Homo sapiens: one gene and its partner. The protein of the gene in region 1 interacts with the protein of each later gene in a pairwise test. Each region holds a gene or a part of one and is shown in the gene's direction. Other genes may lie near its edges.

Region 1 (16,279 bases):
AATGTTTTAGTTTAGTTTAGATTTTTTTCATTCTAGGAATGTAACTGTGTTGTGGTATCAGTCAGGATCTAGTCAGGAAAACAATCTACATTATTATTATTTTTTGAGATGGAGTCTTGCTCTGTTACCCAGGCTGGAGTGCAATGTCATGATCTCTGCTCACCGCAACCTCCACCTCCCAGGTTCAAACGATTCTCCTGCCTCAGCCTCCCAAGTAGCTGGGATTACAGGTGCCCACCACCACACGGAGCTAATTTTTGTATTTTTAGTAGAGATGGGGTTTCACCATGTTGACCAGGCTGGTCTTGAACTCTTGACCTCAAGTGATCCGCCAGCCTCAGCCTCCCAAAGTGCTGGGATTACAAGTGTGAGCACTGCACCTGGCTCAACCTACATTATTTTAACAGAAATAACCCTTTCCCGTTTGCCCCGAGAATATGCGCCAGCAGCGCTTGTGGATGCAATGTTTACCCTGAGATAACTTTGCCATGAAATATCTCACTTTTATTATTTTTGCATCGCTCTGACATATTGACCTTGAAAACAAAAGACGTCATTCTATTTATAGCATTCTGTTTCTAGTAGTGGCATTTCTGTTTACAAAATATAGTAATTCTCGATTGCTGAAAATGTCAAATTCTAGAAAACGTAGCATTCCTACACGTGATGTTAACAGCGTTCTTGAACAGTTGTTGACTGAAGAGTCACTTGATGAATCTGATTTTTCTGAAATAGATGATTTTGATGTTAGTTCTGTTTAGAAATAACTCCAAGAACAGTTTTTAGATTTTATTTTCACATTGAAAATCAGATTTGCTTCAACCTCAAAGGGCGTGTTTATGTAAAATCAAATGAGTGCAGGCAGTGAGCTATACTTTTTTTTTTTTGTTTGTTTGTTTTGTTGTTGTTGTTGAGATGGAGTTTTGCCCTTGTTGCCCAGGCCAGAGTGCAATGGTGCGATCTCGGCTCACCACAACCTCTGCCTCCTGGATTCAAACGATTCTCCCGCCTCAGCTTCCCTAGTAACTGGGATTACAGGTGCATACCACCACGCCCAGCTAATTTTTTTTTTTTTTTTTTTTTTTTGTATTTTTAGTAGACATGGGGTTTCACCATGTTAGCCAGGCTGGTCTTGAACTCCTGACCCCAAGTGGTCCACCCGCCTCGGCCTCCTAAAATGCTGGGATTACAAGAATGAGCCACCATGCCCAGTCAGCTATACTTTTGTTTCTAAACAAGAAAAGGGTTAATATGAGGAATTGCTTAAATAGTCCTGTTTAATATGGGGAATTGTTTAAATAGGTGTTAGAGGACTGAAAAAACAAAAAGGGAACACAGAGATAGTAACTTTAAGAAGCAGCTACCACCAGTAGGGCTGGGAACAATGGGAAAAGGTTAGTTATTAGAACGAAAAGCTTGGAAGAGAGGCCCTTTTCTTCTCTTCATATCTTCACTCCTGAAGGGTCTGAATCCATTTTTTAATCCTTTTAAAAAATTATAGTAGCTTCCATCAACTTTTATTATAGGATATGGAAGTGCTAAGGGGTACCACAGAAAATCCAGAACATAGTCCTTCCTGTCCCAATCGTCCTCCCTGTCCCCATCGTCCTCCCTGTTCCCACTGTGTTGTAGCAAACCAATTTCCTCTTGATAATGGGAATCAGTAACCCCACCCAGAAAGGTAACCCCTGCTTTTCCTGTTGTTTCCATAGCATGTGGAACCGAAAGTGGACACATCCCAGTCTTAGCTTCTAATTCAATGAAACCATAATTGTGATCCCTGGTGGGAACCCTCCCTTGGGAAGCAACACCCCCAAACCAGCAGAGCTCAAAGCAAAACAGGCACTGGAAGCAAAAACTGTATGAGTGGATTATTGGGTGTAATGATGAAAAGAACCACTTCTACTACAACCACCACTCCCTTCTCCCTCCCAGCCCCACCCTTGATTCTTGGACCTTGTATTTTGGGGGAAGCAGTACTATGTACTGACTCCTGACTCAAAGCATTTTCTGTGTCCTCCAAGAGGTAACTTCACTATGTTAGTGTGGTGTTTCCCAGCTGGTGCTGGAACTCAGTCTTCAGTAGAACTCCATCATCCTTCCAGGTGAGCTGCTTCTGGCTGATGAGGTATTGATAAGACTGGTAAATTCCATTTACATGAGTCCTTTGCTGCATTTCTTTTGCCATGAGATGAGTTCCTCAGAAAGAAGTAATATTGTGTAGACTATATAACAGTGAGTAAGATACAACATAAGTCATGGATGGTAGTTCTGTCAGAAACACTCTCTGGGCCGGGCATGGTGGCTTATGCCTGTAATTCCCGCACTTTGGGAGGCGGAGCAGGCAGATTACCTAAGGTGAGGAGTTCTGAGACCAGCCTGGTCAACATGGTGAAACCCCATCTCTACTAAAAATGTAAAAATTAGCCAGGTGTGGTGGCGCATGCCTGTAGTTCCAGCTACTTTGGAGGCTGAGGCAGGAGAATCACTTGAACCCCGGAGGTGGAGGTTGCAATGAGCCGAGATCATGCTACTGCACTCCAGCCTGGGCAACAGAGCCAGACTCCATCTCCAAAAAGAAAAGAAACACTCGCTGGGCACAAATCCATATCAGCTGGGCATGGAGGCTTACACCTATAATCCTAGCACTTTGGGAGGCTGAGATGGGTGGATCACTTGAGGCCAGGGGTTGAGACCAGCCTAGTCAACATGATGAAACCCTGTCTCTACTAAAAGTACAAAAATTAGCTGGGCGTAGTGGCACACTCCTGTGATCCCAGCTATGCAGGATGCTGAGGTGCGAGAATCGCTTGAATCTGGGAGGCAGTGATTGCAGTGAGCTGAGATCACGCCACTGCACTCCAGCCTGGGCAACAGAGCAAGACCCTACCTGAAAAAAAAAAAAAAAACAAGAAAGGAAAAGAAAACAAATTCATATCCACAATATGTGTCTACTCTAGTGAAGACAAGTAACTGTTCCCTCCATGAAGGAAGGGTTCCAAAATAATCAATTTGCTACCACATGGCTGACTAGTCTCCCTTGGAAATGGTGCCTCTCAATGTGTGATTTCTGATGTTGTCAGATATCAGCCTTACTGCAGAGAAGCCTAAGATTTGAAGCCCAAACATAGTCTTTATTCCTGACTCCATGGCTACTTTGAGCAAGCACTGCAATAGGTGGAGAAAGAGGCCCACTCCACCGAATGTGTCATTCACCTAATTACTAAAAGCCTTCTCAGAGTAGATGCTCTGTGGTGAGCATTCACATGGCACACAAATTCCTCACACTTTGTGCCTATTCTGAAAGGTGCACCCACAAACCTCTTTCCCGGACCACCTCATCTTTCCAAGTTGCTGACCATTCAGCAAAACCATCAATAATTGCCTGTGAATGAGTGTAGATCTATACCTTTGACCGTCTCTCTCAATCCAGACAAAGTAGACCCTAGGTGCGCTGCTGGAAATTTCTTGCACTGAGAAAATTTCCCTTCAGTACTGTCATCGGGGGCATTCCTTATTGAGACTGTGATGCTGGAATAGACCACTTCCAGCTTGTGCCAGTATATTTAGGAGAACTGTCTGTAAATCAGTTAACTGGTCTTAAGAAATTCCCCATGAAGTTGAAGATAAGGAGGCACCAGGAGTAAGTATCAAAGGAATCTGAGCTACCTGCTAAGGCAACTTGTGCTTTCTGGACCTGCTTAAGCTCAGTCTCTTACATACCATTTCCATTTGATGAGGAATTCCTCTTGTGTATGTCTGGTCTTATGGATTGGTAGATTAGATTACACTCAGTTCATAATGGGCAGCTGAGCTTGCAGTCACTTGATTGTCTCATGGCCAGTCATTCAAATTCACTTAGCAAGCTAGGGACCATTCCTCAAATAGAAAATTGTTATCTGCAGAAGAGGGCATGACTTGCTCTACAACTAAGGAATTCTGCATTGTAGATCTAATCAGGGCTCACCAGAGGCTCTATATAGCATCCTTATTTGCCACAGACACTTTAAGTATCATTGGATTCCTCTGGGTCATCAAGTCCTGCTACAGATATTTCTTCTCCCCTTATTCCTAATAAAAAATTCCAGCCTTATGGGTTGCTCTATAAATGGGTCACAGCATCACACTCAGATGTGATACATATTGCCTCTAAAATCCAAGGATACCCAGAAAGTATTGTGTCTCTTTTCTTAGTGGTAGATGGTACAAGGTGAAGTAATTTGTCTTTTACGTTGGGGAGAATATCCTGGTGTTTTCTAGACCACTGGACCTCCAGAAACTTCACTAAGGTGATGAATTTTCTTGGGGTTTATACCCAATCTCTGGCTCACATGTGTGTTGTTAAGGCAGCTAAAATATTTGTTACTTCCTGTTTATCAGGGCCAGTCAGCTCGATGTCTTTAACATAGTGATCAAGACCTGTGCAGATGAGATTATGCCAGAGAGTGGGAGTGTTTACATCCCCTAGAGAAGACTGTAAAGGTGTACTGTTGATCTTGCCATATAAAAGAAAACAACTTTTGGTGAAAATTGAAATAGATAAAAAGCATTTGCCATATCAATAGTGCACACCAGGTGCCTAGGGCTGAGTTGCTTTGTTGCGGTAAAGACAGCATATATAGAATAGCAGCTGCAACTGACATTACCATTTGATTAAGTTTACAACTTAATAACAAATCATAGTTATTCTCTAAGATCTTTTGCATAGGCCCAACAGGTGAGTTAAATGGAGATGTGACAGTATTATCATTCCTGTATCTTCTACGTCTTTTCTGGTGGTACCAATTTCTACATATTTCCAGGGATTGAGCATTGTTGTTGGTTTTCTATTCTGGTATCAAGAGGAAATTCCAGAGGCTTCCATTTGGCCTGTCTTACCATAATAAACTTCACTCTGTGGGTCAGAGAAATGATGTTAGGATTCTGTTAGTTACTGAGTATGTCTATTCTAACTAACAGTTGAGGAGATAACTATAGTTTGGGTCTGCAGAGCTACTGGATCCACACTGATTTATACTTAGTTAAAAATTTCATTTATCACCTACCATAGATCCCCATTTTGATTGGTGGATCCAGTGGTGTTTGCAATCCTCAGGAATTAGCATTAATTCAGAAGCAGTGTCAGTGATCCCTCAAATGTCTGGGTATTTCCTTTTTCCCAGTACTCGCTCAGCCTAGAAAAATACATCAGGTTCCTTTGGATAAGGCTTGGATGAGGATTTGTAGTATATATTTATGACAATGCTGCAAGACCCTCCTGAAGGGGACCAGCTTCCCTTTTAATCAAGGAGCTCTGTGTCTGTGAACTCATTTAGGTACGGAAACTGAATGAAAGATAATTTCATTTTGATGGCTCAAGGGAGCTTTCAGGTGGCAGATGTAGAGTTTTGTCTGTTATAAAGATCAATGGCTATTTCCAAAGTCTGCCCGTCTATTTCATTCCTAGGACAACCTAGGGCACTGCCAGATATACCTGTAGGTTAAGACCTTTAAGTACTACTTTGTCTCTGCTGTCCATTACAGTAAATGTGTCCACCTTGTCTCTGCCAGCTAAGTGCTGCCACTTGGCCATTGCTGTCGCAGGATCCCACTAATATAAAAATCAAGGAGCCATCTCAACGAAAGCATCTCCCACCATCATATCCAGCTACTAGAGAGTTTTTCTGACGTTCTCTCTCGAATGTATTTTTCTTTCCTTTTCTTTTTTTTTCTTTTTGACAGAGTCTTGCTTTGTTGCCCAGGCTGGAGTGCAATGGCGCGTCATTGGCTCAGTGCAACCTCTGCCTCCTGGGTTCAAGCGACTCTCGTGACTCAGCCTCCCAAGTAGCTGGAACTACAGGTGCATGCCACCACGCCTGGCTAATTTTTTGTATTTTTAGTAGAGACGGGGTTTCACCATGTTAGCCAGGCTGGTCTGGAACTCCTGACCTCAGGTGATCCACCTGCTTCAGCCTCCCAAAGTGCTGGGATTATAGGCATAAGCCATGGTGCCTGGCCTGTATTTTTCAATGCTTCAGTATAAAGATCATCATCTGGCTCTCCAGGAATATGTAGGGGTTGGCTGTACAGATTATACATGATAAAATTATTCCAACATTCCCATCTCCACAAATCTTTGGATTTCTTTCTCTACATTATACCAGGGGCATTCTGGCTTCTCAAGCTCACCGAATATAGTCAACTGCTGAGTCTGAGTCTCATTTAATGAAGTAAACAAAGTGTTTGAATCACTGTCAAAGTACTGGCTAACACATTAAAAGCAGACCTTCTGATAAGTGTAGTCTTATCAATAAATTTTGCCAAATCTTCTGCTCCCTATTTTATTTGGAACTTGGCCACGAGTTGTTCAACCTTTCACAAAGTCAGGTCACCTATGACAACACCAATCTTGATATTTGAATTCCTAACACTATATGTTCACATCTGTCTGCATTTGTAATTCTCTCATTCACAAAGCCTCTCCATATAGGTGGAAGCATCTTACTGCTTTGTTTTGTCAGAAGACAAAGAGAGTTGTGTTTTACCACTTACCTACTGAAATACATATTCATTATAAATTACTCTCCTTTAATTTTTCCTTTATTGTACAATTAGGACAATATATTGTTGCTGGTTTTTTTTTTTTTGAAATTTGTATTGGTAGGTAATATTATCCACAAATTACCTTTCAGGATAGTAAGGGGAGTGTTAAAGATACTAGTTACAAAAAGAGGATGATGGTCTGATTGGGTGGAGAACTGCTGCCTCCTCACTTTGGCCCCAGGAACTTAGGTGCAGGCATGTCCGCGATGAATCAAATTGGATCTTGAGTGAATCTTCCAAATTAAGTCATTTGTTATCACTCTTCTGAAAGATGGCTCTATTTAAGTAGAGAATGCAGGGTCCTATTCAGTTTACTTACAAAGCCATGCAGGGTGTTCAGTAAATAGACATACCAATAACAGCAGTGAAGAACTGACTCATAGATGCAACATAAACAATCTGTTGTATGTCTGAGAAAGGCCTTAGAATTTTTTGTTTGTTTGTTTCCATGCAACATTGATAACAGAGGAGTGGAAGCCAGGAACAAAGTTCCTTGGTTCTTCTTGTCTGCATGATCTGAATTATAATCTATAAGACTAATAAAGGTAAATTTGAGATTTAGCTGCTTCGACAACCAGAGTGGCTGGATGGTAAATGTGAGGATATTAATGCTCCTTTCTCTCCTGTCTCATGTGGAATCTTTGGGGGAGGTTCTAAGAGTAGGGAGGAAGAATGGACATTTGGTTTGTGAATATACAGTAGAGGCAGATGTTTGGTCTTGACCAAAGAATTCTGTAGCTCTAGTTTGCTCTTCAAAGCTGTTCAATGCTGCCCTACAGGTTTGCTCTATGGCCTGCCAGGGGCACATGGGGCTGCCTGGGAGCACTTCCTCTCCACTTGCTTACTTAATTCTCCCTTCTCCAGATCTCAACTCCTGTCACTTTCTCAGGGAAGCCTGCCCTCACCCACCAGTCTGGTCTGATTCCTTTGTTGTGGGTTCACTTCAGAAGCATGTTTTCCCTTGAGATCCCTTATCTCAGTTTGTAATTACATTCATTAGCAGAGACTATGCGGTTTATGTTGGCATCTTCTGAGAGCAGGTTATCTTATTTATGCTCTCCGTTTATTCCCGTGCCTAGCCAGTGCCTGACAAGGTAGGGACTCAGTACATAGCTGTTCAATGAATAAGTGTTTGCTCCAAATTCCAGAACTATCAACAGCTACTATGCTTACGAATATGCCCGTTGTATCTGTAGCCCATGGTGTTTGACAGCTGTCTTCTATTTGTTGAAGAGCTTGGTAACTTGGGATTTTGTAGAGATCAGTAAGGACTGGTGGGAACACCCAAAAGACCCATCAACTCGGTGATTTAGGACTGCTTTGCTTCTCCAGGAACTCCACTCCACCCCCACCAGCAAAAACCAAACCCAGGGTGTTTGAATTTAACAATAGTATGTGTGTGTGCATATGTGTGTGTGTGTTTAGCTGGAAAGTGGCTGGAGAACAAGGTGGAAGGGCCAGAGCTTCTGTTCCCTCCACCCATAAATGTTTGGCAAACACCCTGTAAAGAATCACAATGTGTCCGCTGCCTCCTGGCATTAAACAAAGGGAGCATCATAATTGCGGTCCCTGGGATCTTCGGGGCGCTGCCACCACCTGATTCTGGGTTAGGGGAAGGGGGCGTAACCCCATCTCCCCGGTTAAAGTGGACGGCATGTGAGTGAGAGCCTTTCCTGCCCCCTCGGGGTGTGTCCCCGCGGGCTTCCCCACCCATATGTGTGAGACCCGTCAGGGAGGCCCGCGATCCGCCCAGGGCCCGGGGCCGGCCCGGCCGGGCGCCGCGTGCAGGTGCGGAAGGCAGGCGGCGGCCCGGTGCGGGCGCGGGGGCAGCGCCGGGGGCCGGGCTGCGCGGCTCGGCTGCGGGCGGCAGGAGGCAGCGTCGGCCCAGGCGGCGGGCGGCGAGCGAGCCAGCGCGCGGTGATGTCAGTGGCGGCCCGGCTGGCAGCAGCCGGTACTTCCTGTGGAAAGGCGGGCGGGCTCGGCTGCAAACCCCACTAGCCAGTGTCAGCCTCTCGGCGGGAGGAGGCGGCGGCGGAGGAGGAGCAGGGGGAGGGCTGTCAAATTCGGGAGCCAGATTTTTTCCCTTCTCCTGGCAATCCCTTCCGCTTCCCCGGCTCCCGGCGTGACATCTGCGGGCCGGGGACCTGCATGTGTGTGCGCGCGAAGGAGCGGAAGAATGGCAGTGCTCAAACTCACCGACCAGGTAGCGGGCGGCGGCGCCGGCGGGCGGGACGCGCGGGCGCGGGGCGGCGCGGAGCCCGGCGGGGGGATGGGGGCGCGGCTGGAGCGCGCCCGCGAGCTGTTTACTCGCGGCGAAGGGGAGGACTGTGTGCGGCCGCCGGTGCCTCCGAGAGCCCGCGGCGGCAGCTCCCCTCCGCCGCGCCGTCCCCGCCCTGGGCCGTCGGAACTGCGCGCCCGAGTCTGGGGCAGGGCCCGTGGGCGCTGGGCAGCCGGCGTGCGGGAGTGCGGCGGCCGCGGGCCCGGCGGGGCTGGGGAGGGGGCCGGGGGCTCGAGGTGCTCTCGGGACTCGCACCGCGCCGCGTTGCGTGGGCGCCGCCGGCCCGGGCCCCGGGGAGGAGGACGCTGCACGAAGAGGGAGAAAGGATCGCAGACTGGGACCCCTCCCCAAACCTAGCAGGAGTCCTGCCCAGAATGCGGCTCTTGTGTGGCCGGGCTGTCTTTATTTATCCGTTGGATGTGACATCCGACTTCCTCTTTAGTTGCGCCAGGCTGTGTGCGTGGTGCGGGATGGGGACCCCTGGAGACCGCCCTTTCGGATCGGGCCGGTCCCTCTGAGGAGGAGGTGAAGTCGGCTCGGAGCCTCCACTCACAGGCGGTGGGCTACGGTCTGCCTGTGTCTACCAGCTTTGTTGGCTTTCCTTGCTGAGACACCACACAGGGCAGCTCTGGAGTCCTGGCTTGGAGAGGTGGGGTTATTTGCTGAATCGGATTGACAGTCCTCGCCGCAGGTCTGTGGAATGGTAACAGCCACCTTCGCGGACTCTGCTGCTCTTACATTGACACTAACAGGCACCAAACCAAGTTGCATGACAAAACTCTTTGCAGCTCTTTCCACGAAAAAAGGAAACGGCTTGCTACCCCCACCCCCGTTTATTCGTGGGTAGTGAAAGGAACTTTGTTTTGGGGTCCTGGTAGGCAGAGAGGCAATCTTGACTTTGACTACAGGGTCAGACTTGCCAGCCCTTGGTATTAAATACCTCAAACTTGTCCATGGGTTGCATCTGCTGCCTTGCGTTCTCCAGTTAGTATCCAGCCAGAACATCTTGCAACTGAAGTGCAGTCCGTCACCACAATGATTTGCAATGATTTGTTCTCCTGCCTTTTAGATTCAATTTTTTTAGCTTGTTTTTCCTAAATATTTACAGGTGTTTGGCGGGGTTGGTGATGGGGAAATCACTGAGTTAAAATTCATGTTATTGTTAAATTTAGTAAGAAGAGCAGCTGGTACTTGTGATGAATGTATTTGTTCTCATTGGTTCCAGAGCATTTAAAAGTGTAAGTTGATATCAGGATTTCCTTCACCTTTTGGTCACATACTTTGCCAACTGTTAGACATTTGCGTATTTTAAATCCTACAGTTTTAGCGTGTCTTGGGCCTGTCATCTTTGCTAGTACACGTTGCTGTACTTGTCTGTTAATCCCTAGATCTTCAAAGTACAAAGAATGGTTCTAATAGGTATTGTTATCACATATAAGAAAGAACATCACATAGAAGTTTAGAGTTGTAAGGACTCTAAGGATGATCTAGCCCAAACCCTTCATTTTCTAAATGACAAAACAGATCTGGAGAAGTGAAGCAAGTCTTCCTCAAAGAATGCCAGCTATAGGCCTGCAGGACTGGGACTAGCTCTTGTCTTCTGCCTTCCAGGTGCTTGTACTTTCTGCTACAGTTGGTATAGGATAGCTCCATCATCTCATTGGATGTGTTGTAAGGGTTACAAGAAAACATCTCTTCCTAGATCAAGATCAACCCTAGTGAGAAGTGTATTACTTGGTCTTACAAAGAGAGGAAGTTATTCTTCAGGGCTTATCAGAGCAGGAATTTCAAAGATGTTGCCTTTTAAGATGTTTCCAAGTATATTTCCTTCCTTCCCCCAATAAACTAGTATGAGTATGGAGAGAAAGGAAGAGTCACACAACGTTTATTTGGTTCCATCTCCAGATACGTAAAAAGAACCTAAGGCGTTTTAAGATTCAAGAACTTCTGAAAATGTCCAGTCTATCTTGGGACAAAGTCAGAAGGAGATGGGGTGGGGAAGTGGCCTGGGTGGGGTGGGGTGGTGAACAACGATGGTTTCTGTGTAGCTTTAGGTCCAGGAAGTAAGTGTGTGGTCTTTCTTGCCTTATATAGTCTTACCTTTTCTGTTTGAGACTCAATTCTTAGAAGTCAGTTCTTAACCTCACAGATTAACTTTTAAAACCATTTGCTTAGACCACTACTAGAAGAGTTTTGCTCCATCATTGTGGGCAGGGAGCCGCCCGCCTGCTTGGAATCCCTGCCTTAGAGTTTGTACAGGAGTACCTTGCTCTCCATTCAGCTTCTAGTAAAACAACCACTTCTTAATTTCTCCCTCCTTTTTTTTTTTTGTGTGTGTGTGTGTGTGTGTCAGGGTCTCACTCTGACTCGATAGTATGATCATGGCTCACTACAGCCTTGGCCTGCCAGGCTCAAACATCCTCCCACTTCAGCCTCCCCAGTAGCTGGGACTATGGGCGCGTGTGCCACCACACCTGGCTAATTTTTGTATTTTTTGTAGACACAGAGTTTCGCCATGTTGCCCAGGCTGGTCTCAAACTCTTGGGCTCAAACAGTCCACCTGCCTCAGCCTCCCAAAGTGCTGGGATTACAGGCATGAGCCACTGTGCCTGGCACCTCATCTGTTGAATGCCCTATTTGTGAAGTGAATCTTGATTTTTGCTAGGCCTCTTGGATTTTTTACTGTTGATAACCTGAAACACAAATTGTCTGGATTTGTCTTTAAATGTGGCAAAAGTCAGGGGTGACAGATGATGACATTTTCTCTCCAGCTAAAGCTGGGTGCAGGAGCTTGCTAGGTGAAGCAGACACTACTTCAGCAGTCAGTCCTGTAGTGACCTCTCAATCTTGTAAGAGAAGGAAAATGTTTTTTCCTAACTCTTTTTTTTTCAGGAGAGTAAAAAGAAAAAGGGAGAGACCAGTGTAATTTTTAGTCTTTTTTTTTTTTTTTTCACTGTAAAAAAGGAACTGGGAGCTATCACTACAAACAAACAAACTTGGCATTTAGCACTTCTGCATTTGTAACTTTTGTAACAGTGTCCCTTCTGTTTTCCTCTTCACAGGGCACACATAATTTTTATTGCAGCCTTAGGGGGCACTAACCATCCTGGTTTGTGCAGATTGACTGGTGTCCCAGCATATGGGGCTAAAACCGGGAAAATTCCAGGCAAACTGGGAGGAACTGGTTACCCTGTGTAACATAGAACATCCTCAACTATGTCATTAATATAATAATGTAATTAGTTCCTTGTATGTGGACATTAGGAGTTTTATATTTTTTGGTAAAGTGAGATAATTTTAAGTTTGGGAAAGAAAATTTTGTTAAATACAGATCTAAGGCATTTGACTCAAAGATAGCCATGAAACCTTTTTGAAAATTGATTTGATATTGACTGTTTTAGGGTGTTCTTTATGTCATATAGTTAAAGGCACTGTAGTCATTTTAAGTGTGTGGTCGTATCTTCAGCCTGGATCTCTACCCGAAATTTATTTTCAGAGTTATGAAGCTAGGATGGTAAGTTCTGTTGCATGTTTAAAGTGTCCACTATTCTTACCTGCATTTGTTAATGATGGCAGAACACTACTTTCATCTCGGAGGCTGCCTGCAGACAAACTGTTTCAGCAGGTGGCCTTTTTGGAGCTTCCTGCCTGGAGGCCTTCTGGTTTGGTGTTCCCTTGCCAAGTCCTAGTTCACACTTGAGTCACCTACCTTCTTGCCAAAGGCAGTGGCTGGCAGCGGTGGCAGTGGCAAGAGACTAGAAATCCTGTGTAACTTTGGGAGCAGGATTTCTAGCCCATAGTGTGGGGCCTTGGGACGTGTTACATATTTTACTGGGCTGCCCTTGTTCTTCCATGGCTCCCTAGAGCACTGGTGTTAAAGCAAACAGTATGCTGTAGTCCTGTCTTCAGCATAGAAGAAGGGAAAAGAAAGGCTTTATTTAGAACCTTTTCTGGTTGTTTCAGGACCCAATCACATGGTTTTGAGAGTGCACTTGAGGCTGGTGTTTCATGGCAGAGACCTAATAATGTCACACATTTATTGTGCTCTTATTGTATACTGGGCCTTTGCAGTGAATCATGTCTTAATCCTCATAGCCACACTAGGAGGTAGGTGGTGGTGTGATTTCTATTTTATGGATGAGAAAACAGGAATAGAGAGGCTAATTGACCGGTTTAGGGTCATACGCCCAGTAAGTGATCTAGCACACTGTCCTACCCTGGCAGTCTGATTGCACAGGTGGGGCTCTGACCACAAGGCTATACTTTTCATAGTTGAAAGGGCAGTGCAGCCATGGGATTAATGGGTGTCTGATCTTGTTTACAGAGAAGCCATTGGATGAACAGCGTTCCCTGAACTCCTTCTGCCTCTTGGGCCAGACCCATTTCTGTACATAGTAAGGAGCTGCTCTGAGGCCTCTGCCCCTGCCTGGCTTATACCTGGCTTTTCCCATTAGCCTCTCCATTTCCTCACCCCGGTGAATGATGTGTTGGTAGTTCAGTGATTTTTTTCATATATATATATATATATATATATAAAACGAACTGCGGTCATTATAGGAAAAGCAGAAAGCTAGATGAGCAAACCAAAAAATTTTAAAACCATCTGAAGCCTGTATACTCAAGAGATAACTATTCTTGACATTTTGATATGTTTCCTTCTAGTCTTCTGTCTGGGTAGCCAGTTAAAATTTTTAAACTTTTCGTGTGATAATATCATTACCTTTCACTTGTGCACATAGCTGATATCTGTGTTCTCTACACCAATGACTTTTCCAAATAAACTTATTCTTCTCTTACATATATGATTGGCTCTTTAGCCAACGCCAGCACATAAGCTCTAGCTCTGGATTAATGGAACTAACTTTTTTCTTTTTCTTTTCTTTCTTTCTTTCTTTTTTAAGATTTCAACTTTTTACTTCCTCTTTTGCTGTAAACAGAGAGCAAATACGAACTCAAAAAGGCACAAATTGTTTGTACCAGAAACAGAAATGAAAGATTCTTTAAAAAGATTTGTATTTCTACAAGATAATGTGAATTTTTATAGGCTAAAGTATAGCACGAAATAATTTAAAAACAGGCAGAGCTACAGAGATCTGATAATTTTGTGATTTCCAAATTTGTTTAAGCTATGACACTCCTTTTTTCCCCCGAAGAAATTTCATATTGAAGCTCAATATATAAAAAAGATTGGCTTGGACAGTGGTCCCTGAGTCCCTCTTGAAAACTGGTTGGGTTTAGTATTATTTGAAAGCCCCTTTGTATGAGAAAACTCCTGGTGATTGGTTAAGTGTTTTTTGTTGTTGTTTTTGTTTTTTTTCCTGACACATCATGTATGAAACAACATTTATAAATGTTTGTGAATGATTAGGAACTACACAGAACTAGGATGACTATATCATTTTTATCCGTTTGAGAATCATAGGTGATACTACTCAATATGAAGCCACAAATAGACGTGAGCCAGGACTGTCCTGGGTAAACCTGGATATGTGGTCATCATATATTCACATAGACTCCATGTTTGCTCACCACAGGCTTGACAGTGACAGTAAACTAGTTTGACTAGCAGACTACTCTGTCTCTTTTGAGTCAGGTCTACAGTGGTGCAGGTATTACAAAGATTGTTTTATGACCTTGTGCAGAGTTGGGAAACAGCTTCCATGTCACACATGAGTTCTGATCGGTCCAGGACTTGCAGGTGTAATGTGATAGAAACATTCTGACTCTTGCAGTCAAGGATCCGAGAAAGTGTGATTGATTACCAGTGTTTGCTATGGGTACACGGGAAGGGAGAAGTGACATATGTTGTACATTAGCCAACCCTTGGCAAGACATGTTAACCTCTGTAGGCTTCAGGTTTCTCTTTGTAAAATGAAGAGGTTGGACTGGATGCCTTTATGGTGCCTCAGCTCTGCCCTCTCCCTTCTGTGACTTGGTGCCTGTAATGGAGACCGATGCTCTTCACATGGTTTGTGTTATAGCATTTCTTACAAATGTGCCTATGAAGGGTGTATTTGCAGATGAGCTCTAATAAGGCTTTCCAGGTAACAAAGTCAAACAGCTTCAAGTTCCAGAGAAGGATTTTAACCCATGTCAATGACTTAGGACTAATTCCTATTCTCCACCCTACTTCAATTCATAGATAATCTAAGATTACCCATTTTATTTATTCTGTATTTTTATTTTTTTGGGACAGAGTCTCGCTCTGTTTCCCAGGCTGGAGTATAGTGGTGCAATCTTGGCTCATTGCAACCCCCGCCGACCCCCTCCTGGGGTTCAAGTGATTCTTGAGCCTCAGACTCCCGGGTAGCTGGGATTACAGGCTTGCACCACTACGCCCAGCTAATTTTTGTATTTTTAGTAGAGATGAGGTTTCACCATGTCGGCCAGGCTGGTCTCAAACTCCTGGCCTCATGTGATCTGCCTGCCTCAGCCTCCCAAAGTGCTGGGATTACAGGGGTAAGCCACCACACCTGGCCTAAGATTGCCCTCTTTATAGATTACTCCTTTTTAACCTTTTAACCAATATATTATTTGGCTTTGGCTGCTTTCAGAGGTCGGGAATGCAGGTATTTGCCCTTATCAGTGTTTATGTTTGTAAATATGTTGGTAGCCTAAGAGGTTGAAATTAATGATTCATGAATCCAGCTTGTAATTATGATATTCATAATTTTTAAGGATCTTTTCACTTGCCTCCTCTTTTGAAAACTTAAAATTTATATTCTATAAAGTGAGCTAAGCAAATAAATATATAGTCCACTTTGGGCTGTTTCAGGGATTACTAAGTCGATAATTGTTTGCATTTCTTGGTTTTTGTTTGCTTAGAGTCCCCTTGCTCCCATCCTGGGGAGTCTTAAGCATCCAAGCATAGCTTTCTAGGATATCTTTTATACCAGAAGACCATTTTCCCCTAAGAAAGCTTTCAGAGCTTTTAGTAAAATTAGGGAGACTTGTGGAAACATCTGTTTGAGCCTAGACATGGAAATTAATTACAATTCTAACCTGTCTCTAAAAGTTTTGCTTTTTTTATTTAAAAAATTTTGTTTTGCTTTAGTTTGTTTTAAAAATAACACTAGATTGGGAATCAGAAGACGTGGATTCTACTCATGGTTCTTCTAACTGTTGTATGGTTTGGGGTAAGTCCTGGCCTTCGTTTCTTTGTCTGTCAAAATGGGAACAGGTAGAAAATTCTCTAAATTCTTCCAAGCTCTAACATTCTAAGATAGCTCCTCACATATTTCAATGTCAGTCTTTTCTCATCTTGTGGAATCTCAGTTCAAAAAGTATCTGCCTTTTATGAACTTCTGATTTTCTCCCAAGTGTGTTTGTGGCAGCTTTAAAGTTTCCCAGGTTTGGTAAACACATCCTGAGTTTTGTCTAAGGGTGAGGAGTCCTTTCTCCAAGAAGTTTGTCTTCTGG
Region 2 (16,011 bases), on another chromosome or scaffold:
GCCTCAGTTGCCCGAGTAGCTGGGACCACAGGCATGTGACGACATGCCCGGCTGGTTTTTCTCTTTATTCGCCGCCTTTTATTTTATTTACTTTTTATTAAACTTTTTTTGTATGTTTGTGAAACACTTGTCTGCTATTGAAGACACTTTACTTATTTTTTAATCCAAGCGATGCTGAAAAGACACTTTTTTTTTTTTTTTTGAGACTCACTTTATCACCAGGTTGGAGTGCAGAGGCATGATCGGCTCACTGCAACCTCCTCCTCCCAAGTTCAAGTGATTCTCCTGCCTCACCCTCCTAAGTAGCTGGGACTATAAGCCAGCACGCCCAGCTAATTTTTGTATTTTTGGTAGAGACAGGGTTTCGCCATGTTGCCCAGGCTGGTCTTGAACTTCTGACCTCAAGTGATATGCCTGCCTCAGCCTCCCAAGGGGTACCTCCCCACAGTCCTGGAGCAGACTGTGGCCCCTCAGGGCCTTGAGTGGCACGCTGGTGGGGCAGCTCTTGTCTTGGAGCCGTCAGGCACCGTGTGAAAGTTTGGAGGAGGGAGGCAGGAGGTGAGGTTGGAAGTTGAGCAAGGTTCCAGGAGTCAGCCGGAGCTGGGGCAGCATACGGGGTTGCAAGTGAAGCCGCTGAGAGGCAAAAGGGATGAGTGTTAGCTGCTGGGGGATTGGGAAGCGCAGGAGCTTCAGGACCAGCTTGTCTTGGGGGTGGTAAGGAGCCTAGGATGGGATGGTTGGGTGTTAGCAGGGTGGAGGAGGCCTGGTGTGGGCCCTTGTTTCTGCGTCACCCTGTCCTCTGCCCTTTCCCCTTCCTGGACAGGGGTCTCTGCAGTTCCCAGAAACCCAGTGCCCGGTGCAGAGAAGAGGGTGGAGCCTTGCCGCCCCCTGCCCCCGGCCTCCGACCCGAGCCCCCACCCGCCTGTGCTTGCCTCCCAGGTACCCCAGTGTGGCCTGCGAGATTCTGACCTCAGATGTGCCCCAGATCAATGATGCCCTGGGTGCTGATGAGTCCCTTCTGAACCGGCTCTACGGCTTCCTGCAGAGCACCGGCAGCCTCAACCCACTGCTGGCCAGCTTCTTCAGCAAGGTCATGGGCATCCTCATCAACCGCAAGACAGACCAGGTGCCCTGGCCCCCACCCTGGCGCCACCGTGGGTTGAGGGGTGGTGGCTGGGCCAGGCCCTGTGCATGACGCAGCCCGTGTGCCCCCAGCTCGTGTCCTTTCTTCGGAAGAAGGATGACTTCGTGGACCTGCTGCTGCAGCACATTGGCACCTCGGCCATCATGGACCTCCTGCTGCGCCTGCTCACCTGTGTGGAGCGGCCTCAGCTGAGGCAGGATGTTGTCAATGTGAGCAGGGCCGGCTCCTCTGGGGGTGGGGGGCTGGGCGTGGTGGACAGCGATGCATCCCTCGCCTTCTCACCCTCAGTGGCTCAACGAGGAGAAGATCGTCCAGCGGCTGATTGAGCAGATCCACCCGTCGAAGGATGAGAATGTGAGTGCTGCCGATGCCCCTGCGGATTCCCCTTAGAGTTCCTTCCCCATGCCCACTTCCCCACTTTTAAAAGAGGAATTGGGGCTGGACGCAGTGGCTCACGCCTGTAATTCCAGCACTTTGGGAGGGCGAGGTGGGAGGATTACTTGAGCCCATGAGTTTGAGACCAGCTTGGGCAACATAGTAACACCCCGTCTCTACGTAAAAACTTAGCTGAGTGTGGTGTTGCACACCTGTAGTCCCAGCTACTTGGGAAGCTCAGGTAGGAGGATTGCTTGAGCCGGGAGGTCAAGGCTATAGTGAGTCATGATCACACCACTGCACTCCAGCCTGGGTGACACAGTGAGACCCTGTCTCAAAAAAAAAAAAAGAAAGAAAAGAAATTGGTGAGAAAAGAGAGCATTGAGAACCAGGTGTATCCATGCCCTTTGAGAAAAGGAAAGAAACTTGACTCAAGTGATTCTCCCACTGTGGCCTCCGAAAGTGCTGGAAAGGTTTTTTTCATGACCCAGGAACTTGGCACATAATGCCTTGCAGGGAGGGGCCCTCCTCATCGCCTGTCCAAGCGCTGGCCCCACATCCGTCCCTGCCCACCCTGGCCTGTGCTATTGCTGGGCCTGGCAGCTTTTTCCCTGTCTCCTGCCTGATTGAACCCCTTGCTGTCCTTCTAAGTGTCCGTCCAGCAGCCTTGCTTTCAAGCGCCCTCACATCCTCCCCTTTAGCTCTGGGGGACCCCATGTCCATGTGTTTCTCCAGCTTGGGTCTCCATCTCTGTCCTGGTGCCCAGCACAGGGCCTAGTGTAGAGTGGGTGTTTGTCAAGAGCCTCAGATATCCGAGGCCACTGGGAGCAACATGTCCTTCCCAATGCCAACTTCTGCCTCAGAGGCGCACAGGCTTACAGAGCAGAGATGGCTCTGGGCTCACCCAGGCTGGGGCCTGTCCCTGTGAGGACCCTGAGGCATGGCCCAGGGCCACACTGCCAAGCCCTGGCAGCTGCCCGTTGGGTAGACTCAGCTCTGCTTATGCTTCTCTCTTTTCTCTCTTTTGTAGCAGCTTTACTGAGATGTAAATTGCACAGCATACCACTCACCCACCGAAGCTTACGATTCAGCGCTTTTAGGGTATTCAAAGCGTTTATCATCTTGTTGAATTTAGATTATTTTTTATCACTCCAAAAAACAAGTCCTGCCTGTAATCCCAGCGCTTTGGCAGGTGAGGCTGGAGGATTGCTTGAGCCCAGGAGTTTGAGACTAGCCTGGGCAACATAGCAAGACGTTGTCGCTACAAAAAATTGAAAAATTAGCTGGCATTGGTGGTGCACACCTGTAATCCTAGCTACTCAAGAGTCTGAGACGGGAGGATCTCTTGGGCCCAGGAGTTCAGGGCTGCAGTGAGCTGTGATGGCACCACTGCGCTCAAGCCTGGGGTGATGTAGAGGCCGTGTCTTTTTTTTGAGACAGTGTCTTGCTCTGTTGCCCAGGCTGGAGTGCAGTGGCGTGATCTTGCCTCACTGTAGCCTTGACCCCCCTGGGCTCAAGCAATCCTCCTGCCTCTGCCTCATGAACAGCTGGAACTAGAGATGCACACCACCATTCTTGGCTAATTTTTTTGTATTTGTAGAGATAGAGTTTTGCTATGTTGCCCCGACTGGTCTCAAACTCCTGGGCTCAAGTGATCCTGCCACCTTGGCCTTTCTTTTTTTTTTTTTTTTTTTGAGATGGAGTCTCGCTCTGTCTAGAGTGCAGTGGCACGATCTCGGCTCACTGCAGCCTCCACCTCCCAGGTTCAAGCGATTCTCCTGCCTCAGCCTCCCGAGTAGCTGGGACTACAGGCGCCTACCACTGCGCCTGGCTAATTTTTTTATTTTTAGTAGAGATGGGGTTTCACCATGTTGGCCAGGCTGGTCTCAAACTCCTGACCTCGTGATCCACCTGCCTCGGCCTCCCAAAGTGCTGGGATTACAGGCGTGAGCCACCGCGCCCGGCCCCACCTCGGCCTTTCAGACTGCTGGGATTATAGGCATGTGCCATCACACCCAGCCGAGACCCTTTCTCCAGAAAAAATAAAAAAGATGCCCTGTGTTCATTAGCAGCTCCTCCTGATCTTCCCCTTTCTCTTCTTAGCCCCCGGCAACCACCAGACTATTCTGTCTCTGTGGATTTGTCTTTGGACATTTCATATAATTGGAATCATGTACTACGTGATCTGTGTGTGGTTTCTTTCTCTAGCATGATGTTTTTGTGGCTCATTCATGTGGTTGCATGTATCAGTTTCACTCCTTTTCCTGGCTGATTAGCACTCTCCTGTGTGGATAGACCAGCTTGGGCATATTCACTCATCAGTCAGAGCCTTCTGGGTCATTGTGGGCGGTGCTGCCAGCCCTGTATGCGGTCATGAGGGCCTTGTGTGGATGCCTCCTGTCCTGGGGAGCCTTCCGGGCTTCCTGTTCTCTCCACCATCTTCCCTCCAGCAGTTGGTGCCTCTGTGCCCTCCTCCTTCGTAACACGTGTCCCTGTGTCTGGGTGACCATTTTTCCCTGGATGGTCAGCTCATGGGAGGGGCTCCCAGCACCAGGCTGCAGAGGGCCCGGTGGCCCGACCAGGATCCTCACCTGTCTCTCCCCGTTCCAGCAACATTCCAACGCATCCCAGTCCCTGTGTGACATCATCCGCCTGAGCCGGGAGCAGATGATCCAAGTCCAGGACAGCCCAGAGCCTGACCAACTGCTGGCCACCCTGGAGAAGTGGGTGTGCGGGCAAGGCTAAGGCTGGGGGGAGCTGACTTGGGGAAGCCCTGGGCCCCTGGCCCCTCACCCTGACCCCTGCCCCTGCCCCCGCAGGCAGGAGACGATTGAGCAGCTCTTAAGCAACATGTTCGAGGGGGAGCAGAGCCAGTCTGTCATCGTCAGTGGGATCCAGGTGCTGCTGACCCTGCTGGAGCCCAGGAGGCCGAGGTGAGGGATACGGGCCACAGACCATGCATGCTGCCCATCCCCAGGGGCTCTCCGGCCCCTCAGAGGCGGGTCTCGGTGTCCACCAAGAGAAATCCCCGCCCGTGGCACCTTGCTCTGTGGCTGCCTGTGCTCCCTGCACAGTGGACAGTACGGGGCCGAGGGAGGAATCTTCTTGTCTGCTTTGACAAGTGAGGGCACTGAGGCTGAGGCCACTGCTGCAGCTTGTGTTGGGAGGGACCCCAGGCCCCCGTGCCCCTGCCTTACCACACAGGCCGCTAGCCTGTTGGGTTTGCCTTCCCGCCTCCACCCCTCACCCGTGCTCTCACAGTGGACTGCCAATGCTGCCGCCTGGCGGGCTCCCCACCCCAGCCAGGTGTTGTCTGAAGGGCCTCAGAAGAGAGCGGCGCTGGGGGCATGTGGCTCCTCGTTTTCCTCCAGACCCTGCAGACGTGGTCCTTGTGCCTACTCCTGTGTGGGCGCACAGGCCATCTAGGCTCACTCCGCCTTCGACCCTGCCCTGCTGCAGGTCCGAGTCCGTGACCGTGAACAGCTTCTTCAGCAGTGTGGATGGGCAGCTGGAGCTCCTGGCCCAGGGGGCCCTGGAAAGCACTGTGTCCAGTGTGGGCGCCTTGCACGCCCTACGCCCGCGGCTCAGCTGCTTCCACCAGCTCCTGCTGGAGCCTCCCAAGGTCAGGGGTGTGGGTTCTGGTCCTCGGGGAGGCGGGGGAAGCAGGAAGGGCAGCCCTTGGGAATCAGGCCTCCCTGTGTCTGCAGCTGGAGCCGCTACAGATGACATGGGGCATGCTGGCTCCGCCTCTGGGCAACACGCGGCTGCACGTGGTCAAGCTCCTGGCCAGTGCCCTGAGCGCCAATGATGCAGCCCTGACGCACGAGCTCCTGGCACTGGACGTGCCCAACACCATGCTGGTGCGGGGACTGGACCGGGCTGGGGGTTCAGGGGCTGGGGCGGGGACTGGACTGGGCTGAGGGTTCGGGGGCTGGGGTGGGGGCTCGGCTGGGGGCTCAGGGGTTGGGGGCTCGGCTGGGGCGGGGCCTCTCTGGTACCAATCCTGTGTCCTCCCATAGGACCTCTTCTTCCATTATGTCTTCAACAACTTCTTGCATGCCCAAGTAGAGGGATGCGTGAGCACCATGCTGAGCTTGGGGCCACCTCCTGACAGCAGCCCTGAGACGCCCATCCAAAACCCTGTTGTGAAACATGTGAGCTGGGACTCCCTGGTCCCCCTCCTTCTGGGCCCATCCCCTGTGGGCGCACCCTCTCCAGAGGCCTACCCCTCACTCCTTCCTCCCACAAGTGTTTGTTGGGTAGTGTTAGGTGCCAGCGCCCAGATGGGGTGTGGGAGGCATGGCCAGGGAGAAACGCGGATGAAACATGCAGGTGCAGGGAGCAGTGGGCTCCTGACTTGAGCTGAAGAGCTAGGGGTGGGCGGGAGCAGACCTGCGAGCAGCTGAGTGTGCATGAGTGCGCACACGTGCGTGTGTGAGCATGTGTCAGTGCAAGCGTGTGTGAGAGCATGTATGTGTGTGAGTGCACACGAGTATGTGAACATGTATGTGTGAGCATGTGTGTGTCCGTTAGTGCATGCATGTGTGTGTGTGTGTGTGTGTGTGTGTGTGTGTGTGTGTGTGTATGCACCACATATTCTTTTGTAGAAAGACCAGAGAGACTTGGGTGGATGCCAGGGTCCCAAGCCCCAGCTTGCATCCCTCCTTCCCATCCCCGTCTCTGGATGAGCGGGGGCCTGGTGAAGCATCTGCTGAGGAAGGGACCCCTGCTGCAGTGCAGAGCTCCCCACATGTGTGCAGACCACCCCTCCAGGCCATCCTGTCCCGCTCTCCCGCAGCTGCTGCAGCAGTGCCGCCTGGTGGAGCGGATCCTGACGTCCTGGGAGGAGAACGACCGTGTACAGTGAGCACCTGCTGCCCTTCATGTCTCCAGGGGCTGGGGCTGCCTGGATGGGGGGCCGGGCTGGGGCTGGGCATCCCTGGGTCCAGTCCTGGCTTGCAGCCGCGGCCTTCACTCTTGCCAGGTGTGCGGGAGGCCCTCGGAAAGGCTACATGGGTCACCTGACAAGAGTGGCCGGTGCCCTGGTGCAGAACACGGAGAAGGGGCCCAATGCAGAGCAGCTGCGGCAGCTGCTGAAGGGTGAGGGTCCCCAGGCCGGCCTGAGGGCTAGGTGGGGGGCTTGAAGCCCCGAGATGCCTCACGTCTTCACCCCTCTCACCTAAGCAGAGCTGCCCAGCGAGCAGCAGGAGCAGTGGGAAGCCTTCGTATCGGGGCCCCTGGCGGAGACCAACAAGAAGAACATGGTGGACCTGGTGAGGCCCAGCTTCTCTTCCTGCACTCCTCCTGCTGCTTCTCTCTCTTGGGCCAGTCTTAGCCTCCCACCGCCACCGATAGCTGCCTGCCCACCCTGGTCTGGGGGCTCCAGCAGGCCCTGACGCCCCCTCCTCTCCCCAGGTGAACACCCACCACCTACACTCCTCCAGTGACGATGAGGACGACCGGCTCAAGGAGTTCAACTTCCCTGAGGAGGCTGTGCTGCAGCAGGTGGGCGTGGGGCTATGTGGGGCTGTGCTGGGCTATGCTGGAGTGGGGTCCTGCCCAACTCCCTCCAGCCCTAACCTCCGCACCCCCACAGGCCTTCATGGACTTCCAGATGCAGCGCATGACCTCTGCCTTCATTGACCACTTCGGCTTCAATGATGAGGAGTTTGGGGAGCAGGAGGAGAGTGTGAAGTGAGTGTCTCCTGCGCAGGGTCACAGCCCTGTCCTGCCTCTGCAGCAGCAGGCGCGCCTACTTGTATCTGTCCCCTGCACGCACCTACATGCCCTGTGGGCTCAGCCTGCAGCTGTGGCCCCTCCTGGGCACGCGTTGGCCGTGGCCTTGTGTGTGTGTCTGCAGCCTCGTGTGTCTGCCTCCTGTTACATGAGTTCCAGCTCTGCAGTCTCTTCTCTCCGAGAGGCAGGCCATGAGGGTGGGGCACAAACATCTTCTGTGCTGGGGACACAGAGCGGGTCCCTCCCACTCCTGGAGCTAGCCTTAGGGGTTCCAGGCGGGAGGGGCTCAGGGTAGTGGGGACCAGCAGTCCTGGCGCAGGGACTGTGGGGCAGAGCTGCACCTCCATGGATGCCCTCTGGCTCAGGAGTCTGCCAGACATGGGGGTCCAGTTTTCCCCTCCACAGGCCTCGGGGTAACAAAACTTTTTTTTTCCAATTACCAATTCTGCTTGTTTTGATTTGTGGGTCAACCACATCTTAATATCAGTCACCTCTGGGTGTTATGATCATGAACTTTTCTGAGTTTCTTGCCACAAGCATCTGTTGCTTCTGGAGTCAGAAAAAAGTGGCTGGGCGGAGTGGATCACACCTGTGATCCCAGTACTTTGGGAGGCCGAGGCAGGCAGATCACCTGAGGTCAGGAGTTCGAGACTAGCCTGGCCAACATGGCGAAACCCCATCTCTACTAAAAAATACAAAAATTAGCCAGGCGTGGTGGCAGGTGCGTGTAGTCCCAGCTACTTGGGAGGCTGAGTTAGGACAATCGCTTGAACCTGGGAGGCGGAGGTTGCAGTGAGCCGAGATTGTCCCACTGCACTCCAGCCTGGGCAACAGAGCGAGACTCTGTCTTGCTCCCCACGATGAGCTCATTTACGGCCAGGGAGACTGAGGCCCCAGGACATAGCTGGTTAGTGTGTGGGAGCTGGATGGCTGCCCATGGCTGCCCCGGGGTCCCTGTACAGCACAGCGTAAGGGACACCACGATGAGGGATAGTCAGCTGTTCCTGGCTTAGTCCACAGCTGGACAGAGGTCCTCTCAGATGCAGACGTGATATCCTGTGTTGGCTGCTTCTGTGCCCAGCATGGAGACTTGCAGAGCGTTGGTCTTTGTGGGTCAGTGGCCTGTGCCGAGACCCCTGGAGAAGATGCTCAAGTGAAAACTGGGCTGGACACAGTGGCTCACATCTTAATCCCAGCACTTAGGGAGGCCGAGGCAGGAGGATCGCTTGAGTTCAGGAATTTCAGCCCAGCCTGGGCAACATTGTGAGACCATCTCTGCTTTTTTAATTAAAAAAAAAAAGAAGAAAACCCCACCCTGGCAGGAGAATGAAGGGACTGACTGGTAGATGGCATTGGGGTCACCAGCTGCCCCTTTCGGGATGAAACTGTTAGCTTTTCCTCTACCAAGAAAATTCCAGAGGGGTTAAGAAGTTAAGTGAACAAAACTAAACCCAGAAAGATTTCCGGAATGGAAAGTGGATGACTGGTTTGATCATCTCAAGGCTGAAGATGCTGCCCCGCATAGCTCCTGTAGCAGAAGCCAGGTCAGCTGAGGCTGCCAGTGCCACGGGGACATGGGCTGCCCTGCCCTAGACCCACTGTGTGCCCAGCGTGGTCTCTGCTCCGCTGCTTCTCAGTGTCTAGGAGGGACTAAGGACACTTGCCTTGGAAGGTGGTTGTGAGAATGAAGTGCGTGAGTAATGTCTGTCACATACTTAGTGTCCTTTAAGAATTAACTGTCCTTTATCCATTGATCTTTGTGGCAGAATTTTTCATGAATTTGAGACAAATGATCCCTTGAACTGTCCGTAACACGTGGGACAGAATGTGGACCCTGATCATTAGACCCTCGTGGTGAGGGAGGTGGGGCCCTGGCAGGCACAGTTTAAGTTTTGACGTGATTCTTTTTCCCATAATTTAGAATTTCAGCCGCGGACCGTAGACATCTTGAGGTTAGGGGATGTGCTTTATTGGGCTGTAGTCTCACATTCTGCTTGTGCCTGGCTGGTGTGAGTGTCAGCCTCCTACAGATGCCCCAAGGATGGGGACAAGGGCATGGATCTGAATCCCTCTCTGGCACCTGTCCTTGGAAGAGCCTGAGGAGAGTCGCTTAACATTTCCGAGCCCCATTTTCTCACTTCTAGAGCCAAGGGAAACAGCCTACCTCAATGAGTGGTTTTAAGGATTTAAAGTGATCATATGTGAGATGTTGATATTCATGTATGCGTTGCCCCTTAGGACCAGTGGTTCGGGTTGTGTGTGAATTTGCAGATACCAAATCTGCAAGTAATGAGGGTCAGCTCTGTGTTGAGTGAAGAAAGAAATGTGGCCTGTCCTGTGCTGCCCCCACCCCCAGGTGGACCTTCTCACCATGCCTTGCCTTCTCTCCTAGCGCACCTTTTGACAAGACAGCCAACATCACCTTCTCCCTCAATGCTGACGATGAGAACGTGAGTACTGCCCTGTCCCCTGGTTGTGGCGGGTGGAGGGGTGTGGGGCTGTGGGCAGTGTGGCCCATCCTCCCACCCCTGTGCCCTGCAGCCCAACGCCAACCTACTTGAGATATGCTACAAGGACCGCATCCAGCAGTTTGATGATGATGAGGAAGAGGAGGACGAGGAAGAGGCCCAGGGCTCAGGGGAGTCTGATGGAGAAGATGGCGCCTGGCAGGGCAGCCAGCTGGCCAGGGGGGCCCGTCTGGGCCAGCCACCTGGTGTCCGGTGAGTCCCCCTCCAGTTTCCCTTCTCCAAGCTTCCACCACACGGCAGGGCCAAGGGGTCCCCCCAACACATTTGGACTGAGGCTGAAGTGAATGAAGAAAATAAGGAACCTGCATTGGTGTGTGTATTAGTTGGGGGCACTTTCACTTTTGAGTGATAGAAATCTAATTCAAGGCCAAGCATGGTGGGCTCATGTAATCCCTGAGTGCCTGTAATCCCAGTACTTTGGGAGGCCAGGGCAGATGGATTGCTTGAGCTCAGGAGTTTGAGACCAGCCCTGGGCAACATAGGGAGATCCTGTCTCTACAAAAAATACAAAAGTTAGATGGGCATGGTGGTGTGCACCTGTAGTCCTGGCTACTCGGGAGGTTGAGGTGGGAGGATGGCTTGAGCCAGGGAGGCAGAGGTTGCAGTGAGCCGAGATCATACCACTGCACTCCAGTCTGGGCAACAGAGCCAGACTTGTCTCAAAAAAAAAGGTAGATGATGCATTAAGAAATCAACAAATTAGCCGGGCACAGTGGCTCAAGCCTGTAATCCCAGTACTTCGGGAGGAGGCCAAGGTGGATGGATCGCTTGAGCTCAGGAGTTTGAGACCTAGCCTGGGCAACATAGCGAAACCCTGTCTCTACAAAAATTACCTGGATGTGGTGACGTGTGCCTGTAGTCCCAGCTACTTGAGAGGCTGAGGTGGAAGGATCGCTTTACCCTGGGGGGCGGAGGTTGCAGTGAGTTGAGATCGCACCACTGCACTCCAGTCTGGGTGACAGAGACCTGGTCTCAAAAAAAAAAAAAAAAAAAAGAATCAACAAATTAAAAAAAATCAGCCGGGCACGGTGGCTCACGCCTGTAATCCCAGCACTTTGGGAGGCTGAGGCGGGCGGATCACGAGGTCAGGAGATCAAGACCATCCTGGCTAACATGGTGAAACCCCGTCTCTACTAAAAATACAAAAAATTTGCCGGGCGTGGTGGCGGGCACCTGTGGTCCCAGCGACTTGGGAGGCTGAGGCAGGAGAATGGCGTGAACCCGGAAGGCGGAGCTTGCAGTGAGCCAAGATTGCGCCACTGTACTCCAGCCTGGGCGACAGAGCGAGACTCTGTCTCAGAAAAAAAAAAAAAAAGGAATCTAATTCAAATGAGTTAAGTTATGAAAAGAAAGGGATAATCTCTGTGGCTGAAAAAATAGGCAGGTCCTGAGGTATGGCTTGGTCTGTGTGTGTCTCTCTCTTCCCGCCTCCCTGTCTCCTTCCTTCATCCCTTCACTTCACTTCCTCGTGTTAGCTCTCACACGTTTTCCTAGAAAGGGGGGTAAGATGGTCCCAGGCAGCTTCTCTCTTCTCTAATTCCAGTAAAATGAGAGATGATGACGTCCCTCTCCAATCAGGCTGTGATGACATTTTAGTGCAAATGTTACATTGTTTTTTTTTTTTCTCTTAATACTGGCCGGCCCCAGAGTCGCTGTGATGAAATGGGTTCATGCCATGTAGATTTGACAGCCTGAACACTAAGTCATCATCTGCAACTGAGTTTTTGACTCATGACTTTTGATTTCGGAATTAGGCTGTTTTCACTTTTTATTGACATGTAACATGCGTATAGACAAGTGTACATACAGATCCTGAGTGTGTGGCCAATGGATATCCTTCCTCAGTGCCCAGACCCAGGAGCAGGACCTTCCCAGTACCCACATCCCCTCTGTTAGCCAGTATCCTCCCTTCTGAGGGTAAAGTTGTCCTGGCTTCTAACCCTGTAGATGAGTTTTGTCTCTGTTTTCACTTGATATAGCATACAGCATCTCCTTTTATGTCTGACCTCTGTTGCTCAACACTCTGCTTGTGAGCTCCTTCCCTGTTGTGTGTTTGGGTGCCCCTGGCTCTCGTGCAGTGGGGCAGTGCCATGCATGATGAGCTGCAGCTGAATTGCTTGTTCTGCAGTTGACAGGCCTTTGGGCAGGTTCCTGTTGCTCGCTGCTGTGAGTGCAGCCGCTGTGAGTGCGGCCGCTGTGAATACCCTTGCACGTGTTGTTGGTGCACAAGTGTGTCACTGCCAAATCCAGCATCTTGACTTAGCCCTCTCTTTTCTTCTAAGAGTTTTATAGCATTATTTCTATGGTTTTCCATTCATTTTGAGCTAAATTTTGTATATGATGTGAGGTGGTCCACCTTCATCCCTTTACATATAGATAACCAGTTTTCCCTGCACCAGTTGTTGAAGACACTGTCCTTTCTCCACTGAATCATCTTGGCACCTGTGTAAAAAGGAAATATTTGACCATATGTATGAGTTTGTTTCTTCCCTCTCTGTTCTGTTCTATCAGTCTGTGTGTTGTTTTTATCCAGTACCACACTGGCCTGGTTGCTGTTGCTTTATAGTAAGTTTTGAAAATGGGAGGTTTGTTGGGCACGGTGGCTCACACCTGTAATCCCAGCACTTTGGGAGGCCAAGGTGGATGGATCACCTGAGGTCAGGAGTTTGAGACCAGCCTGGCCAACATGGTGAAACCCCATCTCTACTAAAAATACAAAAATTAGCCGGCTGTGGTGGGTGCCTGTAATCCCAGCTACTCAGGAGGCTGAGGCAGGAATATCGCTTGAACCTGGCAGGCAGAGGTTGCAGTGAGCTGAGATCGCACCATTCATTGCACTCCAGTCTGGGTGACAAGAACGAAACTCCATCTCACAGAAAAAAGAAAATGGGAGGTTTTAGTTTTCCAACCTTGTTCTTCTTTTTAAAGATTGTTTTGCCCTATTTGGGATTTCTTGAGATTCCATATGAATTTTAGGATCAGCTTGTCAATTTCAACCAAGAAGCCACCTTGCGTCTTCTAATACGTGAACATGGATGTCTTTTTATATAGGTCTTAAAATTTCTTTCAACAATGTTTCGTAGGTTTTAGAGTATGAGGCTTTGTATTTCTTTTAAGTTTATTCCTGTTTTCTTCTTTCTGTTACTATTGTAAATGGAATTTTCTTGAAATTGTTTTCAGATTGTTACAAGTATATGAAAATACAATAGGTTTTTGTATGTTGATCTTTCATCCTGCAACCTTGCTGAACTAATGTATGAGTTCTGATAGTTTTAGTGGACTCCTTAGGATTTTCTATGTACAGAATCATGTCATGTGAATAGAGTTCATTTTCCTTCCTTTCAAATCTGGATGATTTTAATTTCCTTTTCTTGCCTGGTTGCCCTGGCTAGCCTCCGGGACAATGTTGAACAGAAGTGGCAAGAACAGGCATCCTTGTTTTGTTCCTGATCTTAGGGGGAAGCATTCAGCGTTTTGCCATGTAAGCATGCTGTTAGTTGTGGGGTTTTGTAGATGCCTTATGTTAGGTTGAGGGGCTTCCTTTATACTCCTTAGTCGTTGAGTATTTTAGTTTACTTTTAACTATATACAGATATATTACTTTCCAGTTAAAGTAGTCAGTTACTCTGTTAAGACAAAAATATTGGGTCAGCATTTTAGACATAGTATATAGTCCCATACTGCATCTTTGGGTCAGCGATGGACCACATATGACAGTGGTCCCGTGAGATTATAATCCTCTATTTTTGCTGTATTTTTCCTATGTTTAGATACACAAACATTTACCATTGTTAGAATTGCCTGTAGTATTCAGTACTGTAACATGCTGTATAGGTCGGTAGTCTAGGAACAATAGGCTATACCACAGAGCCTAGGTGTACAGGAGGCGCCACCATCCAGGTGTGTGTAAGTGCACTCTAGAATGTTCACACAATAGCAAAATCGCCTAATGATGGCGTTTTTCAGAGTGCACCCTCGTTGTTAAAGCTTAGTTTTAGTGTTACTTTGCTTACCCCTTCCCCGGTTGATCAGCACGTAGGTTGCTTGGATTTTCTTCATGCTCACAGGTGTGTGTTAGTCAACATTCAGCCAGTGTTTTTGGAGCAGCTATGGGTGCCTGGTGGTTTCTCAGGGCTGAGGATACAGCAGTGGCAAAACTCAGCCATCTCTGCCTTCTTGGAGTTTCTAGTTGGAGGGAGAGAGTAGTGTGAAGCCTCTGTCCAGAGGGTGGGCCTGCTGGTGGGAAGGCCTGTCACTGTGGTGACCGTGTGAGGTGACGGCTGGGAGGTGGCTTGAGAGCTGGTGAGTGGGTCTGTCTGCTCTGGTTGCCATGGCTGAGGCTCAGCCCACTTCCCCAGGGCCTGCCCTCCACGGATGACTGGCGACGGACGGTCTCCTTACGGCCGCATTCTGTCCCTGCCCGCCTGTGTTCTTGCCGTTGGCTCAGAACTCCCTCTCCCAGCCTCTCCTGGTGTCGTCACACCCCAGGCTCCCTGGACCCTTCTGTGACCTGCCTGTCATCCCAGCCCGCTCTCCTTGGGCTGACCCTGGGCTGCAGGGAACAGGATGGGTGTCGGCCGGTCTGTCCCACACAGCTAGCTGACGAGGTGGTTTCTGGGGCAGGAGTGGAGGCAGCACAGACAGTGAGGACGAAGAAGAGGAGGACGAGGAGGAGGAGGAAGACGAGGAGGGCATTGGCTGTGCAGCCCGTGGAGGGGCCACCCCTCTGTCCTACCCCAGCCCTGGCCCTCAGCCTCCAGGTGAATGAATGGGCGGTGTGGTCAGGTGTACACAGGGCTGTCTGCCTGCTACTGAGTTCACCCTCCATCCCGCTCCCCCACCTCTATCCCAGGCCCCAGCTGGACAGCCACCTTTGACCCAGTGCCTACAGATGCCCCGACCAGCCCCCGAGTCTCCGGGGAGGAAGAGCTGCACACTGGGCCTCCAGCCCCACAGGGGCCCCTCAGTGTGCCCCAGGGCCTCCCCACTCAGAGCCTGGCCAGCCCTCCTGCCCGTGACGCCCTGCAGCTCAGGTGAGAACCGGATGGAACGGGCTAAATGGTGCTGGTATCCCGAGGCCAGGAGGTGGCCATGGGGTCCCCGTCCTCTCATAGGCTCGAGTGCTAACCCTAGCTGCCCCCTTGGGCTGCCTCTCTCGCCTACCAGGTCTCAGGACCCCACACCCCCCTCAGCACCTCAGGAAGCCACAGAAGGCAGCAAAGTCACGGAGCCCTCAGGTGAGCCCCGCTTTGCCCTGCCCACCCGCGGCCCTGGGCAGAGAGAGCAGCCTGGCCAGCTCCGAGCTTGCTGGGAGCTGCAGCTGAGATCTCTTATCCCCCACAGCCCCTTGCCAGGCCTTGGTTAGCATCGGGGACCTTCAGGCCACCTTCCACGGGATCCGTTCTGCCCCCAGCTCCTCGGACAGGTGAGCAGCGAGGTGGGGCTGCCTAGTATCGGGAGAAGTCTTTTCTCCTCTTCGCTGAGGTGGGCTCTGGGTTCATCTTGTCCCTGAGCTGCTCCAGGCCTCCTTTGCAGGACCCCCAGGCGCAGCCTCATGTTGTGCCCCAGCCCCTTGCACTCTGTAGGCTGGTTCTTCTCTTAGTAGCCTGGGATGCTTGGGGCCCTTGAGCCCCAGGGTTGGGAAGGGCTCGTTGGAGGGTGTGAAGGATTGGGAGGGTGAGAGCATGCAGAAGACCCTTTGGGGCTGTCTCAGCCGGCCTCGAGTACCTCCTCCACAGGGACAGGAGGCGGGAAGAGGGGTGCTTGTCTTCCTGTCCAGGGCTGTGCTGTCCCTCCACGCTGAGCCAGCTGCGTCCTCGGGAGGCCCCTCCCCGTGGGGCAGGTGGCAGACACACACCCAGTGAGCCGACTTCAGTCGGGTGGGATGTGAGGGTGTCAGCAGGTGACGGTGGGGGCCACGCTGACAGCCGCACCTGCCTCTCACCCACAGTGCAACCAGAGACCCCTCTACCTCTGTCCCAGCCTCCGGGGCCCACCAGCCCCCCCAGACCACAGAAGGGGAGAAGAGCCCAGAGCCCTTGGGGCTTCCCCAAAGCCAGAGGTGAGCACCAGGGCAGCAGGGCGGGGGGGTGGGGGTGGGGCTGGTGGGGCAGGAAGTGACCTCTGCACATCCCCTCTCTCCCCTGACAGTGCCCAGGCCCTCACGCCTCCTCCGATACCCAATGGCTCTGCCCCGGAAGGGCCTGCATCCCCAGGCTCCCAGTGAGT

Evidence for each region.
Region 2: the proteins of ANKRD44 (region 1) and PPP6R1 interact in binary tests that used the Homo sapiens proteins (3 or more experiments, as listed by UniProt).

The regions. Positions count from the first base shown.
Region 1 is NC_000002.12:197,303,084-197,319,362, reverse strand, and holds the start of ANKRD44 (serine/threonine-protein phosphatase 6 regulatory ankyrin repeat subunit B), read left to right. Parts: upstream 1-8,582; 5' UTR 8,583-8,758; coding exon 8,759-8,785; intron 8,786-16,279. UniProt on the Homo sapiens protein: Putative regulatory subunit of protein phosphatase 6 (PP6) that may be involved in the recognition of phosphoprotein substrates.
Region 2 is NC_000019.10:55,230,607-55,246,617, reverse strand, and holds part of PPP6R1 (serine/threonine-protein phosphatase 6 regulatory subunit 1), read left to right. Parts: intron 1-939; coding exon 940-1,126; intron 1,127-1,215; coding exon 1,216-1,353; intron 1,354-1,367; exon of another isoform or gene 1,368-1,432; coding exon 1,433-1,498; intron 1,499-4,129; coding exon 4,130-4,242; intron 4,243-4,338; coding exon 4,339-4,452; intron 4,453-4,978; coding exon 4,979-5,141; intron 5,142-5,226; coding exon 5,227-5,379; intron 5,380-5,538; coding exon 5,539-5,673; intron 5,674-6,317; coding exon 6,318-6,382; intron 6,383-6,503; coding exon 6,504-6,619; intron 6,620-6,641; exon of another isoform or gene 6,642-6,706; coding exon 6,707-6,792; intron 6,793-6,934; coding exon 6,935-7,024; intron 7,025-7,115; coding exon 7,116-7,213; intron 7,214-9,647; coding exon 9,648-9,705; intron 9,706-9,796; coding exon 9,797-9,975; intron 9,976-14,406; coding exon 14,407-14,543; intron 14,544-14,635; coding exon 14,636-14,816; intron 14,817-14,949; coding exon 14,950-15,020; intron 15,021-15,126; coding exon 15,127-15,208; and 7 more. UniProt on the Homo sapiens protein: Regulatory subunit of protein phosphatase 6 (PP6). May function as a scaffolding PP6 subunit. Involved in the PP6-mediated dephosphorylation of NFKBIE opposing its degradation in response to TNF-alpha.